Linked DNA regions of Homo sapiens: region 2 is linked to region 1. Evidence: fine-mapped expression QTL. A gene starts in region 1. The other region holds a variant in brackets. All regions are shown on one strand. Distances are between the middles of the regions.

Region 1 (4,386 bases):
CCCCAGGCCCCCATCCTTTCTGGCCACAGCAGGATCTGAATACATTATTTCAGAATTCCTTTCAGTTGGCATGCAGATCACTTAAGCAGCTGCTGGTCTGAAGGATTTAATAAGGGGAACTCTAATTTCTGGAATCCTCCATGTCACCCGACTTAGCAATATTAAGAATCAAAAAGGTCCTCTGTTCCCACCAGCCAAACTCTTCTGACTTTCTATAAATGCAAATGGGAACCCCCTCACTCCTGGGTCCAGGCCCCTACAATTTGCCTTGGGTGGGAGGCTGGGAAGCACTGGACACAAGAAAGTATCTTGAGCACAAGCAACGTCACCCCGGGGATTCCCTGCCTCCACCACTGACTGGGCACCCAGGCATCTTGGCCTGGAACAAGAGAGTGGTCTTAGCAGGAAACATGTCCTAGCAGTAAAGATACAGCCCAACAGCCCCTTCCACCGCCCTTGTGAGAGCTGGTCATTTGGCTTGAGTGGCCAGGTGAGGGCAGGATGAAAGCACCTCTCGGCAGGTGGATACCTAATGTGAAGCCCTTTCCTGTCAGTTCCTCCTGCTGAAAAAGCAGCCAACACAACTGTGTGATGGAGAAAGGGGGCAAGAAGCCCTCCTGACCTCAGGGCAAGAAGGCTGACTTCAAAGCACTTGGCCACTGGGCTAGGCGCCCAACATGCCCCAAACCTCTGCCCAGCCTTCTGTTACCCCTCTTCTAGGCCACGGGGGGCGGCCCCTCCCCTCCCAGAGCCTGCATGCCTTGACCTCGACTTTTTGCAACCTGCAATGTGGAGAAGTCGGGAGGAGGCCACGGGGTGAACATTCGCCCCAGACCTGATGTGGGGCAGTGAGGCCTCACCCTGCCCAGTTTGCACTCAGTCAGGTCGTGTTCAGCTGCTCCTATGCACGCCCCTACACACACAACTCCAACCCGCAAACACACACACACACACGCACACGCCCTCTCAAACTTTAATGCACCCTTGAGTCTCCCGGGGACGTCAAACGCACACTCCAGGACTCCACTCCAAAGACTGCTTCAGAGCAGCTGGATTCTGCATTGGCACAAGCTTCCCCAGGTGAGTCTGATGCAGGTGGCCCGTGGGCCACACTCTGAGAAACGCTGCCACAGGAACCTGTCTGGGTTCCCAGATTCTGGGGCTCAGGTCCTCACCGTCCTCCCCGGGGGCCAACACTCCACCCACGTCCCCCACACAAAGGCAAAGAAGGGGCCTGGGGAGTGGGTCAGGGTCGCGCTGGCCCGGCGCCAGAGGCAACTCCCTCGCGGCGGCGGACGCAGGGTGGGGCGGGACGGGATGGGGGCTGGAGGGGTCCCACTCACAGGGAGCTGATGTCGCCCGGCACGATCCTGGGCACCCAGGAAGAGCCCACGCAGATGATAGACTCCTTGGTACAGCTGCAAGTGGCGGGGCAGCGCGCCAGCCGCCTCACCTGCGCGCTCCGCGGTATCAGGCACGCGGCGCCCAGCAGCAGCAGCAGCAGCCCGAGCGCTCCGCAGCCGCCTCTCCGCAGCGCCATGCCCGGTCCCCGCTCCCCGCCCGGGCCCCGACCCCCACCGCCGCGCCGCGCGCTCGGACCCGGCGCCGCTGCAGACGCGGGCGCCGCTCGCTGCTCTGCCGCCGCCGCTGCTGGCGAGGACTAGGGAGCCGCGGGTGTGGGAGGCCGAGCCGCAGCCGAGCAGCATGCTGGCCGCCACCCCCACTCGGCGCCCCCCCACCCGAGCCCGGGCTGCTGGGCGGCCGCCGCCGCTGCGCCCGCCGCACTCGCGCCTGCCTGACATCAGCACTCGCGCCCGCAGCCCGGCTCTGGCCAATGAATAATGCATGGCGGGGCCCGCCCCGCGGGGGAGGGGGCCAGCGCCGGCCCCGTGGCGCCCCACCCGGCCCCCACCTCGCCACCCCCTCTCGCCCCGGGCCGGGCGCGGGGACAGAGGGAAAAGTTGGGTGACCTTGGGGGAGGGGCCAAGCCTGGCGGAGACCCCCGTCGGGGCCTGACTGAGCGGTGGAGGATCCGATGCCTGCAATACCTCCAGGGGTATAATCTGGGGAGGGCACTGGGTTCCTTTCAGGCAAATCAATAAAGTCGGAGCGGGGAGTGTGGAGAACCGGCTTGATTACTGGGGAGGGAGGCAGCCCTGGGTGCTTTGAAGAGGAGAGACTTTGGAGCAGCCTTTATTAATTTTGAAGTGCATGCTGCCGGTAGGGTCAGCGAGGATGGCTTTGCTTGTCTTCTGCGGTGGGGCAGTGAGGTCTGGCTCTCGCTCCCACAGCACCAGGGGTTACTGAAGCCAGCCAGTCCTCCCATGGGAGGAACGTGGGGAAGCAAAGCCGCTGCAGCCTGCACGCCCGGCGCTCTGGGCCCTGCCTGCTGCCTGCTAAAGAGCTGGAAAGCCCGGGAAAGTTTCCCCTCGCTCAGCTGCCCACGGGTCACCCCACCCGCCCCAGTCAGAGGAGGGTTTGTAGAGATTGAGGGTGTGATACATTCTAGCCACTGTACTTTTAATCTTCTAACCTTTTGAGGCAGGTCCTACTTATATCCTTAATTTATTGATGAGGCTGCTGACGCCCAGAAAGCATCCTGACTGGCTGATGGTCCAGCAGCTCCTGGCTGGGCAGGATGGGGCTCGGAGCCTTGAAGGGCTACCTTAACTGGGCCCTCCTGAGCCCCTCTTCAACTCCTTAAGTTTGAAGCAATGAGCGGAAATCTTAACACAGGTAATGTGCGGCTGAGGAAATCAAAGAAAATGACCAAAGCGGAAACAAAGTAATGGCTAATAACCTGAACTGCTGGGAGAAGGGAATCACAGCACGACTGTCGAGCTGCAAACCAAGGAAAAGCATGCCAGATGCTAAAACCTACTCAGAAAAGTCAGTATCGAATGCAAAAGTAGGAATCATACTATTGCTTCTTCAGCAATTATTGTTGGTGATCCATTGACAAGATCCATGAGGACGGTATCAGGCTGGCTGCTGTGGGAGGGAACAAAGGAACAGCTCCTGTCCTCAGGGAGCTAAAAGTCTAGCTGGACAGACAACCCTAAAAGAGCAACTCCACTGGCTACAAGGGGGTCACAGACTGACCAAAAGAGGTTCAGGAATTGAAAGAGAGCTTTGCGTAGGCAACTTCATGGAGGGAGTTAGACATTCCCTGCTGGTGACTATGTAAAAAGCACCTGGCATCAGTACAAACCAGCCTGCATTTATCATCATTTAATTCTTGCATCTGTCCTGAGAAATGGGTCCTCCCATTTTATGGATGGGAACATTGAGCTCAGAGAAGTTTTTATCTTGTCCAAGATCACACAGGACATGGCCAGGGAGATCATACTCCACAACTGGCTGCTGTGTCTAACCCTCGCTGCTGTGTGGGCATGCATTTACAAATACTTTACTCAGCAAGCCCCAGTGTTAGGGGCTGAGGACACAGACCACAGCCTGGGAGGGCGACAGACATGCAGACCCACAATCGTGGATGTGTGTGCTGTGCACCTGAAAGATGTTTCCCTTAAGAGGGATGGGCTACTGCTTTATAGAGCAGAGGAACGGAGGCTTCTCAAACAGAGCACTCCCTGCTGACCCAGGAAAAGAAAATCTATTTCTCACCTCTGAGTGAGAGCCTGGGGGCAGGGTGGCATAGCTAAATGCTGGCCTCAGGACTAGACAGGTTGGGGTTTGCATCCCAGCCTACCACTTACTGATGTGTAATTGTGTAATCCCAGCCTGCCACTTACTGCTGTGCAAGCTGTGATCTTTCTAAACCTCCATTTCTTCACCTGTAAACAAGAGGTTGTTGTAACCACATTTGGGGGTTAAATGAGATCAAGAAAGTAAAGCATTTAATACCACAAAGGAGGCACTGGGCGTTTGAGCAGAGTTCTATGTGACTAGATTGTAGGTAAGTGACGGAGAGAGGACTATGGAGGGAGATGGGTTTTCCTGACTTCTGTCCTTCCATTGTAATCAGAGTCACTGTCTTGTGTTGTGGTTCTCAATTGCGGGTAATTCAGGGGACACTTGGCCATGTGTGGAGATATTTGGGGTGGGTGCCCCTGGCGTCTAATGTGTAGAGGCTGGGGACGCTACTAAACATCTTGCAGTACTCAGCAAGAATGATCCAGGTCAAAATGTTGCTAGAGCCAAGGTTGAGAGAGCCTGGCTTAGTGTTCTGGAAAGACCCTTGGCATGAGGAATTCCAGAGATGCAGATTGTAAGTCAGGTTCATCAATCACAAGCAAACCTTCTTGGTCATGTTATTCCCATCTCTAGCTTCTATTTTTTCATCTATAAAATGGGGATAAAGAGCCCTTCTGCACCCTTTCCTAAATAAATGTGACATATCATCATTGTTCCTAACCTTAACTTCCA
Region 2 (4,386 bases), 27 kb before region 1:
CGTGCTACTTTCATGGCTAGGAATGAAGTTGTTGGGTTTCTCTTTCAGAGCTACCCCTAAAGGCATTCACTTTATATTCTCTGAAGAGAACCAGCTAACCAGGCGGAACATCCACTAAGAATCTTCCACATAACCAGACCCCAGGAGCTTGCCTATTGCCCATACCAGAGAGGCCCATTTGGAAATACACCATCTGGTCTCTTGAGCACAGACCTGGAGTGTGGGATTCAGCTTGGCTGGCTCCAAAGCTGGCCCCTACTGATCAGCCTGAGATCCCCAGCCTGCACAGGCTGATTCCACTGCCAACACGTGGCCCCATGTGGGTCCTGGCGGGGGTTCCTTTGGTAAAGTACTGGGAGAGGAAGGAGTCTTCCTATCTGAGTATCTTGGGTTGTGATTTGGTGTGGGCTGCACTGGCAGTGCAATAGCAGCAACTCAACAAAACAGGACTGTTACACAAGCGGGGCGGAAGGCAGGTGGGCTGGCAGGGAAGTTGGTATTCGATTACTTGAAATATTAAGTTGTCCAGAGGGCAAGGACACGCACAAATCAAAGGGCCACCTCTAGGTTTCAAAGCAGGTCGAGATCTGTGTAAAGTCCCCTTTGACTTCATAAAATCTCACTTCAAAAATTCTACCGAATGCTCATCAGACGGAAATAACTGTTTCATCCCTCTAAAGGATGAAATGAAAAGCACCAGTCTTTGGCCTGCCTGCTGGTTACCCACAAACTCAACGGGTGGGTTCTGAGAAGCAGATGAGCCATGAAGAGCATCAAACAAGCATTACTGCTCTGGCCACCACCAGGGTCACCTTTGAACCGTAAGAAAGAGGGAAAAACTCCTTTGAGTCACTCCTGGGCCTACAGCCTGTGCTGGGTCTAGACATGTGTCACCAGAGTATTGTCTTTGTGGCAGAGGAAGCAATGTCAAACACTAAATTGTTAACATATCCATGACAAGCATTCATATGAGCCAACAAAATCACCAAGGTTCTGCTATTAAGGAGGATTCAGGAAGACTGGGCATTACTTTCAGGAAACTGGGATGACTCAAAATAGCACTGCTGAGTGTTACAAGATTTTTAAACTAATAATCAGCAAATCTTTTCAGCAGACTTTTGGCTTTAAGAGTTCTTACCAAAAAGATTGCTAAAGTGGAATGAGAGGGGCTCAAAGTTTTTTTTTATTTCATTATAAGTGCTGTCCCATCTTATCCAATTGTCTTCTTCCTCATCAAAAAGCGGGGGGGAAGCATATTACATTTCTAGATGATAAGAGTAAATGCTGTACTCTTTTCTCAGAAATTACAGGCTTTAAGATTTTTTTTTAAATGGTAGAATGGGCATGTCATGCAGTTAGCCAATAAATGCAATCCCTGATTAAAATGTGAGTTCTAAAAGTTTGAAAACATCTAACTATTTCAGTGCTTTTTAATTTCAGAGCTCTGAGCCTGGCTTTGATTTGTTTGTTGATTTTTCTTGGTCCTCTTTTGTGAGAGCTAATGCTACATTTCTCTTAGTTTCACCCACCACACCTTCACAAACTTAAGTCAACAATTATATGTTCAAAAATCTTTGTTTTCCCTTTGAAACTGGATGCAAAAAAGAAATCTCTCCTGTCGGTGGAGACAGCTGTGAATGAACGAGGCGCCTGCACGTAAATCTCCTTAAACTTTTTGAATAGCTGCTTCTCTTTATCCCACTGGTATATCTGAGAGAATGTATAGTCACTCCCCAGGGCCAGGTAGTGATTATCTTTAAAAGAAAAGGGCTGCAGGGTCATGGCCCCCCGGGATGGAAGAGCTTGGATCTCCACAAACTGCTTACTGTTCCACCTCATGACCCGGGAGTCCCCGATGAAGCGGGTAAGGGAAAGGTAGAGGGTATTTTGCATTCGGAAGCTCTTCACAGCCAGTAC[G/A]TCCTCCATGTTGGGGATGTCACCATGGGGGACAAACTTCTTAGAGCTTTTATTCCACTGGAGGATGATGGGGACCTGGGAGCGGCTGGACAGGATGAGATGCGATTTTCCATCGATATCAACAAACTCCGCATCCGTGTCCCTGAACCACTCGTGCAGTGACTGGTAAGAATAGAATCCTTTGCTGTTCCATTTATAAACTGTGGACAGACCAGCCTTTGAGCTGTCTGCGATGACAAAGAACGTCTCGTCGTCGATCTGAAACAGCTCGATGTCATTGGGCTTGGAAATGCGAGAGACCTCTATGTCTTGGAATTTGACAAATTTGGTCCAACTCTCGTCGTATTTGTAAATGTGAGAGCCACCGAAGAGCTGGGCTACCACCACAAAGACCTGATCATCGATGAGAATGGCCTTACAGCCCACGATGGACTGACCTGTGCTCCAAAATAAAGGAGAGGACATTAGTGCAACTACAGCTAAAAACGCATCTCCGCTTGTACTCTTATACACTGCTGGTGGGAGTGTGAAATGGCACAGCCACTATGGAAAACAGTATGGTGGTTCCTTGAAAAATTAAACATGGAATTACCCTATGAGCCAGCAATTCCACTTCTTTGTATATACCCAAAATAATTGAAAGCAGTGACTCAAAGAGATATCTGTACACCTAATGCTATAGACCAAATGTTTGTGCTCTCTCCAAATGCATATGATGAAACCTCATCTCCAATGTGATGGTATTTGGTGGTGGGGCCTTTGGGAGGTGATTAGGTCATGGGAGCAGAGTCCTCAGGAATGGGATTAGTGCCTTCCAACTCCCTCTGCCCTTTCACCACATAGACACAGCAAAGAGGTGGCCAGCTATGCAGTGGGTTCTTGCCACATACCAAATCTGCCAATGTCTTGATCTTGGACTTCCCAGGCCCAGAACTATGAGAAATAAATTTCTGTTGCTTATAAGCCACTCAGTCTACGGTATTCTGTTGCAGCAGCCCAAACAGACTAAGACACCTATAACATCATCCTTCACAATAGCCGAAAGGTGGAAGCAACCCAAGTTGCTTCAATGGACAAATAGATAGACAAAATGTGGCATATACATAAAATGGAATATTATTCAGCCCTAAAAGGAGGAAAATTCTGACATATGCTACAACATGGATGGACTTTGAGGGCATTAGGCTAAGTGAAATAGCCAGTCACAAAAAGACGAATACTATATGATTCCACTTATATGAGGTACCTAGAGCAGTCAGATGCATAGAGACAGAAAGGCAAAGAGTGGTTTTCAGGGGCTGTGGGATGGGGCAAATGAGGAGTTGTCATTTAATGGCACAGAGTTTCAGTTTTTCAAGATGAAAAGCGTTTGGACGTTAGTTGTACAACACTGTGAATGTACCTAATGCCACTGACCAGTATACTAAAACATGGTTAAGACAGTACATTTTGTGCTATGTGTATGTTGCCACAATTAAAACAATTTTTTTAAGTTGTTTAAAAATGTGCTTCCGTAGAAATGGCTGAGTGAGGTCTTCAGGGCCTCTGGAGTCCTCAGAGGCAGGCATACAATTCAGGAAACTCACTAACGCACCAAGGGAATTATCATCATGTTTTTAAATAAAGCTACATTAATTAGCTTGATTTAGCCATTCCACAATGTATACATATTTCAAAACAACATTTTATACACAAATAAATAGATACAATTTTAATTTGTCAGTTTAAAAAATGTGTATCCTTGAAAAAAAAAAAGTATTTCCTGACTCCATATGGCAGAAGGAGGCAGTTAAACAGGCTTCTCCTGGGGTGGTGGGGGGTTGCGGGGGGTAAGGGATGATAAAAAGGCAGGAGTGAGGTCTCAGAGGCAGGAGAAAAAGATTTCTGAGTGTTCTTGAAGACATTTGGGCTCTTTTGATTTCCAGAGCTAAAGGAAGCCAAGTGGAGGCAGAAAGAGTAGGATTAAACCTTATGACACAGACCAGGTGGCCTAGGGTTCAAAGCCCAGCCCCGCACCTTGTAAGCTTTCTGACCCTGTGCTGGTTAACCCAACTCTCTGTGCTCAAGTTCCTCATTCGTAAAATGAGACTGAAGATGCTGCCAGCACTGATCTTACAAGTGACTATAAGGATGAAATGAGATCATTCATGGCAAGCGTTTTTAGCATGGAGCACTGGCACCTAGCGGGTGATTGCTCATTAGTGGCTATCATTATTGAACAATTGAAGCAATTGTCACTATAATCACAAGACCTTGCCCCTTAGTGCTTGCCCATAGTGGGCATGCATAAGTATCTAAAGAAGGAGCAATAGTCTGAATGATCTAGCTCAGACGTCATAAAACTAAGACTTTGCAGAGGCAGGGGACCATTTTCCGTGGTGACTCTCCCCTCTGGCTCACCTCCCACCATCCCTTATCACCCTGCACCCAGATGCCCCCCAGACCTCCCCATTCCAGAAGACCAACCAC

What was found. PIP is the estimated chance that this variant, and not a neighbour inherited with it, causes the effect.
Region 2: its variant is the best candidate, but not a certain one, in a credible set for the expression of LGI2 in lung (TOPMed, PIP 0.86).

What each region holds. Positions count from the first base shown.
Region 1 is chr4:25,029,154-25,033,539 of GRCh38, forward strand. It overlaps LGI2 (leucine rich repeat LGI family member 2), which reads right to left and starts at 1,793. Exons shown (of 8, transcript NM_018176.4): 1 at 1,344-1,793. The coding sequence starts at 1,540. LOC124900684 (a long non-coding RNA gene) reads left to right here and starts at 955. Exons shown (of 2, transcript XR_007058083.1): 1 at 955-1,080.
Region 2 is chr4:25,001,915-25,006,300 of GRCh38, forward strand. It overlaps LGI2 (leucine rich repeat LGI family member 2), which reads right to left. Exons shown (of 8, transcript NM_018176.4): 8 at 1-2,354. The coding sequence ends at 1,537. The region is part of intron 4 of LOC102723675 (a long non-coding RNA gene); the gene reads left to right. Among named protein-coding and RNA genes, the nearest start is that of LGI2, 27 kb to the right of the region's middle. The variant G/A (reference allele first, on the strand shown) is at 1,918.